Linked DNA regions of Homo sapiens: region 2 is reported to be linked to region 1. The links are microRNA targets in miRTarBase. Many come from high-throughput screens and were not tested one by one. Region 1 holds a microRNA gene; the other region holds the end of a gene's coding sequence.
Evidence for each region. The annotated mature microRNA hsa-miR-4477a reads CUAUUAAGGACAUUUGUGAUUC and lies in region 1 at 926-947, opposite strand. An mRNA with a match to its seed (bases 2 to 7 or 8) in the 3' UTR can be bound and repressed. Matches are read on the target gene's strand: a 7mer-m8 pairs with bases 2 to 8, a 7mer-A1 pairs with bases 2 to 7 and ends in A, and an 8mer does both.

Region 2: the mRNA of JRKL is a reported target of hsa-miR-4477a. Seed matches in the 3' UTR shown: 7mer-A1 at 1,638-1,644.

What each region holds. Positions count from the first base shown.
Region 1 is chr9:41,231,330-41,234,748 of GRCh38, reverse strand. It overlaps MIR4477A (microRNA 4477a), which reads right to left and starts at 994; the gene lies at 914-994.
Region 2 is chr11:96,391,480-96,394,898 of GRCh38, forward strand. It overlaps JRKL (JRK like), which reads left to right. Exons shown (of 2, transcript NM_001261833.2): 2 at 1-2,082. The coding sequence ends at 745. Among named protein-coding and RNA genes, the nearest start is that of JRKL, 3.2 kb to the left of the region's middle.

The DNA of each region.
Region 1 (3,419 bases):
GAAGTCAACGCTTGGCTTCAAAACTTCAAAGGATGGGCTGACTCTCTTTGAGGACCACTGCAGCTGGTGACTTTAAGTTACAGCCAGTGCTCATTGACCACTCTGAAAATCTCAGGGCCCTTAAGAATTATGCAAAATCTATTCTTTCTGTGCTCTAGAAATGGAACATCACTGTCTGGGTGACAGCACATCTGTTAATAGCATGGTTTACTGAATATTTTAATCCCACTATTGAGACCTACTGCTCAGAAAAAAAAAAAAACGATTCTTTTAAAAAGATTGTTGGTTGGCCAGGCATAGTGGCTCATACTTGTAATCCCTGCACTTTGGGAGGCCGAGGATCACCTGAGGTCAGGAGTTCAAGACCAGCCTGGCCAAAATGATGAAACCCCATCTCTAATAAAAATACAAAAAAATTAGCCAGGGATGGTGGTAGTACCTGTAATTTCAGCTACTTGGGAGGCTGAGGTAGAAGAATGGCTTGAACCCTGGAGGCAGAGGTTGCAGTGAGCCAAGACCGTACCACTGTACTCCAGCCTGGGCAACAAGAGCAAAACTAAGTCAAAAAAAAAAAAAAGAAAAGAAAAGAAAAGAAAGAAAAAGAAAAAATAAAAGGAAAGAAAAGGAAAAAAGAAAAAAAGATTGCTGCTTATTGACAATTCACCTAGCCACCCAGAAGCTTAGATGGAGATTTACTTGGAAATTAATGTTATTTTCATGGCTGCTAGTACAATATTTACCTTCAGCCTGTGGATCAAGGAGTGGTTTTGACTTTCAAGTGTTTTTATTAATTAATAATTGCATTTTGTAAAGGTATAGCTGTCATAGATAGTGATTTCTTTGATGAATCTGGATAAACTGAATTGAAAACCTTTTGGAAAGGATTCCCCATTAATCTTTTCATGATATTTGAACCTCCTCCCGTGAATCACAAATGTCCTTAATAGCAATCCTTAAATGCCATTAAGGACATTTGTGATTGATGGGAGGAGGATGAAATATTAACATTAACAGGAGTTTGGAAGAAGTTGATTCCAGCCCTCATGGATGACTTTGAGGGCTCAGGATGTCAGTGGAGGAAGTCCCTGCAGATGTGGTAGAAATCACAAGACAACTAGAATTAGAATTAGGGCCTTAAGGTGAGATGAAATTGCTGTAAACTCATGATGAAACTTGAACAAATAGGGAGTTGCTTCTTATGGACGAGCAAAGAAAATATTTTCTTGAGATGGAATCTAATCCAGGTGGAGATGCTATCAACATTGTTGAAATGACAACAAAGGATTTAGAATATTCCATAAACCTAGTTGATAAAGCAGCAGCAGGGTTTGAGAGGGTTTATTCCAATTTTGAAAGAAGTTCTACTGTTGATAAAATGCTGTCAAACAGCATCACATGCTACAGGGAAATCTTTGGTGAAAGGAACAAACTTCATTGTTTTAAAAAATTGACACAGGCTTCCAACCTTCAGCAGCCCCCACACTGATTAGCCAGCAGTCATCAATATAGAGGCAAGACTCTCACCAGCAAAAAGATTATGACTTGGTAAGGCTCAGATATTCATTAGCATTTTTTAGCACTGACGTATTTTAACTTAAGGTATGTACACAGTTTTTTAGACATGCTATTAATTACTAATTAATAATTATTAAATACTCATTAGACTACAATATAGTTTAAGCATAACTTTTATAAGCACTGGGAAATAAAATGTTTATGCAACTAACTTGATTGTAACATTTGCCTTACTGAAGTGGTCTGGAACAAAACCCACACTATCTCTGAGGTGTGCTTGTAGGTTTTTGTTTGTAGCATTTGCTTTACTGCAGTTGTCTGGAACCAAACCCACACTATCTCTGAGGTGTGCTTCTAGGTTTTTGGTTGTTCTTTGTTTTGAGATGGGGTTTCGCTCTGTCGCCTAGGCCAGAGTGCAGTGACATGATCATAGCTCACTGCAGCCTCAAACTGCTGGGTCAAGTGATTTTTCTACCACAGCCTCCTGAGTAGCTGGGACTACAGGCATGCAGCACTATGCCTGGCTATATTTTTTTAATACTTTTTTTGTAGAGACGGGATCTCACTATGTTGCCCACCTGGTCTTGAACTCTGGGGCTCAGGCAATCCAGCCACTTCAGCCTCCCAAAATGCAGCCATTACAGGCTTGAGCAACTGCACCCAGCTTGTCTGCAGTTCTTAAAACAAAAACGGCCAGGTGCGGTGTCTGACACCTGTAATCCCAGCACTTTGGGAGGCCAAGGCAGGTGAATCACAAGGTCAGGAGTTCAAGACCAGCCTGGCCAAGATGGTGAACGCAGTCTCTACTAAAAATACAAAAATTAGCCAGGCGCAGTGGCGGGCACCTGTATTCCCAGCTACTCGGGAGGCCGAGGCAGGAGACTCACTTGAACCCGGGAGGCGGAGGTTGCAGTAAGCCGAGATCGTGCCAGTGCACTCCTGCCTTGCGACAGAGCAAGACTCCATCAAAAAAAAAAATGTAATTTAAAAGATTAAAAGTTACGATAGATTTTTACAAATGTATATATCTACCATTATAGTATCATACAGAATGGTTTTACTGCCGTGAAGATTCTCTGTGCTCTGTGTATCCATCTCTTCCTTCCCCTTGGTCCATGGCAACCACTGATCTTTCTACTGATCCCATAGTTTCACCGTTTCCAGAACGTCATATAATTGGAATCAAACAGTACGTAGACTTTTCGGATTGGCTTCTTCTTTTAGCAATATGCATTTAAGTTTCCTCCATGTATTTTTTTGTGGCTTGATAGTTCATCTCCTGTTAGCAGTGAATAACATCCTGTTGCCATTATACTTTTGTCAAGACTCAGAACGTACAGCGTGAAGAGTAAACGTGAATGTGCACTGTAAGCTTTGAATGATAATGAAGGATCAAGGTAGGTTCCTGGTTGTCACAGGTGTGCTCCTGTGAGGCAGGAAGCTGTAGTGGGGAGGCTGTGTGTGGGGAAAGGGACATATGAGAAGTCTGTACTCTCTGCTCCATTTAGCTGTGAACCTGCACTTCTCTAAAAAATAAAATTAGTTAAAATTAAAAGCAAAAAATTAGAAAAATTAAAACATTACAATGTGTCATATAGTTTTCAAATCACAAGACAGAAAAAGACATAATAAAAGAAACTATAGAAAACAACAAGGATAGGAATAAAACATCAGTGATAGAAGGCAGAAGACAGAAACATGGAGCCAAACACATTAATTTATTTTAATCATTAGTTATACTCATTTATACTAATTTATATTGATTTAACATATTAATTCTGACTAAATGGCATTAAAAGAGGTCTGAAGAATTTGCATGTCACATTCTGGATGACAGGACTCAATAATATTAACTCTTTAGTTTGCTGTAAATCATTTAAAAATATGCTCAAATTCCAATAAAA
Region 2 (3,419 bases), not on the chromosome of region 1:
TTTAAGATCTAAAGGCTTGCAGGAAAAGGCTGTGCTCTTGTTGGATAATTCACCAACACATCCAAATGAAAATGTCCTAAGGTCAGATGATGGCCAAATATTTGCTAAATATTTACCACCTAATGTGGCCTCATTGATTCAGCCTTCAGATCAGGGAGTCATAGCAACGATGAAGAGAAATTATCGTGCAGGTCTTCTCCAGAACAACTTGGAAGAAGGTAATGACCTGAAATCATTCTGGAAGAAGCTAACTCTGTTGGATGCACTTTATGAAATAGCAATGGCATGGAACTTAGTAAAACCAGTTACCATTAGCAGAGCATGGAAGAAGATTCTCCCTATGGTAGAGGAGAAAGAGAGCCTGGACTTTGATGTTGAAGATATTTCTGTGGCTACTGTGGCTGCCATTTTACAACACACCAAAGGATTGGAAAATGTGACTACTGAGAACCTTGAAAAATGGCTTGAAGTAGACAGTACTGAACCAGGCTATGAAGTGTTAACTGATAGCGAAATCATCAGAAGAGCACAAGGCCAGGCAGATGAATCCAGTGAAAATGAGGAGGAGGAAATAGAACTAATTCCAGAGAAACATATTAATCATGCAGCTGCCCTCCAGTGGACTGAAAATTTATTGGATTATCTAGAACAACAAGGTGATATGATTCTACCTGATAGACTGGTAATACGTAAACTTCGAGCCACCATCAGAAATAAACAGAAGATGACAAAGTCAAGTCAATAATGTCATTTCAATTTTATTGTTCTGCTCATTGTGTTTGTGACAAACTCTTTGCAATATGGCTTAATTTTCTTTGTGTTCTGAATTCTCAGACTTGGTCCTGTGAAATACAGGCACAAAATGTATCTGAAGTGGTTTGAGGATTATGTGTTTTCATCATCTGTGTCTTTTGTCCTTTTATTTGTACAGATAATCAGAAGATGATACTGAATAGATATAAATTACATGTACACATGTATTCACTTTTTAGAATCTGCAATTATACCTTCTGTAACAGTGGCATTCCCTTAATTTTCTAGTGAAAGTTAGAGATAACTGAACAGACTGAAGCACTTTTCTGAAATCTTTTGCTTGATTTATGAAGGCTGCCATAGTTATCTTTTCTTGTGTTAACCATCTTAAATGATGTTTTGTATATTTTAATAGACTGATAGGATGAGAAAGATTTATATTATTAGATTTCAGGATGATTTATAATAATTCAAAAATGAAATTCAATAATGGGGAAATAATTATGAATTATAGAAATTATGCCTTCATTCTCTTACATTTGTGTGGGTTGCAAGAGGGGGAGATTATTCTGGAAATGAAGTAAATATGGGAAGTTATTGCCAAATGAGAGAGAAACTATGGGAAAGCTGATCTATAAAGAGGCATTCTGATCAATTCATTTGTAGGAAACTGGGAAATAAAAACCTGGGGAACTTTAGGTTATTTATACAAAGGGAATAAATAGGCTGATTTTAATTTGGTAAGTTGATCTTTTTATTATGAATTTGGTAATAGTATAGGTTTATTATTTATTCATCTAATTTTATAGTACAGGTTTTGTAATGTTACATGTGATGATATGAGCTCCCACCTTATATGGGGGAACATCTTGGGAATTTGAGATTTAATAAGTTTTTTTTTTTTTTTTTTTAGTGTTTTTACTGCATACTCACAAATGTTGTCTATAATTTGAAAAATATTGTCATATCTGGCCCTTTGATGAGAAAAGGAAATTACAATAATAAAGTTTTATGATTTTAAATAAGTCATATGTTTGTATCCTGTTTTATGAAGAAAGCAGAAATAATTACTGAAAGTGCCAGACACTAAGGAATATTATTGTTTATTATTTTAATACATATAAAAAGGGATTAATCTGCTAAAATGTAATCTAAATCAGAATTTTGATAAATTTTTTTTGTAAACTAAGTATGTTTATTCAAGACATTGAAACTACTTTGCACATATGAATATTAATGTAACTTGTAATTTAAAAGTAAAGTGTTTCCATGCTATTTCATGTTTTGGCCAAAAATTTTTAAAAAATAAATTACAATTGTTCTCTATTAGTCATTTTTTAAAGGTTTAACTTTTTTTGTTGAAATACGTAACATTTTATAGTGCTTTCTGTAGAATACTAAAACTTCAAAAGTATTTTTAGTTTTCCATAATTTCTCTTATTTTCATGATAGGTGTATGTCTATATTTTTCAGAAGATGTGTGATGAAAGTGTTTAAAAATAGTGTTTATTGCATGAATTTCCTCAGTGTAGAGTGTGAAAAACCATCAGAAGTTAACATACATATTGAATCAGATAATGACACGTTCTGCTATAAAGTAAGCTGTACATAAAATAATTTTTCTAAAATGAAAATATGTACTACAGATCTTGGAATTTCTGTCTGGATTTGCACAGTTTTTAAAATTAATCATGTCAGCCCAATGCAGCTGTGTCATTGCCACCTAGTGGTAAAACTAACATTACTGTTAAGCTGTGTGATTTTAAACTTGAATCCCCAGTAAAAGGTTCACTGTTCTGTGGCCATAAGTGTGAATCTTGTGACTCTTTCTCTAGCCTGTAAGAGACTGCTCTTCTTTGGTTTACAGCTATTCTCTGAAATCTGCCAACACTGGTACTCTAGCCCTGTTTTGGATCCTTCTATCCTTAATTATAAAGGCTGATCAGTAGTTGTAGCAGTTGAAGCCAAAAGCTATTTGGGTTCTGTATCTGCCCCCAAAGTTGTATATCCTTAGCTCCTAATTCCTATTCTATCAGTGCCTTACCAGAGGCTGTGTTTGGCATTCTATTTATCTATTTAAAAATTTGCCATTGGCTTATGTTCTCTCACCAGTTTCATGAATTTTTTTCTCATTGATATGCCTTGACACAATACTCTCAGAAAGCCAATAACAGTGCAATGTTTCTTACACTTCCAGTAGTCAAGAATTTTGTGAGAGCAGATATACCTAATACAAGATCATGTAGGAAATTATAATGTTGCTTTTTTTTCTGAGAGATTTGGGCTTTTTTGTGGCGAGGGGGTTGTAGAAAGTTGAATTCTTTGTCATGATGAAATCCAGTAAATTAAAAATTTATTGAGTTTTACTGTATGTCGAAGACTGCCAGCTGTGGTGGGTTTAGGAAAATATGAAAGAAAGGGAAGAGGTTGCTTTCCTTGAACATCTTGAAATCAAGGTGGAAAAACTATACATGTTTGAAAAAAAAAAAAACCCCAAAACCATCTGCCTCAATTGTAAGCTCATATAAAAGAACCAACATAACAAGATGTGAGCTATGTAAAAAAACCATCAAGATTTAGTTGCTTATTCATTTCTCCTCTGATTTCTATTCTGTATACCCTTTACATTCTAAGCTATGCATTGGTCTTGATTTTTGCTGCTCCTG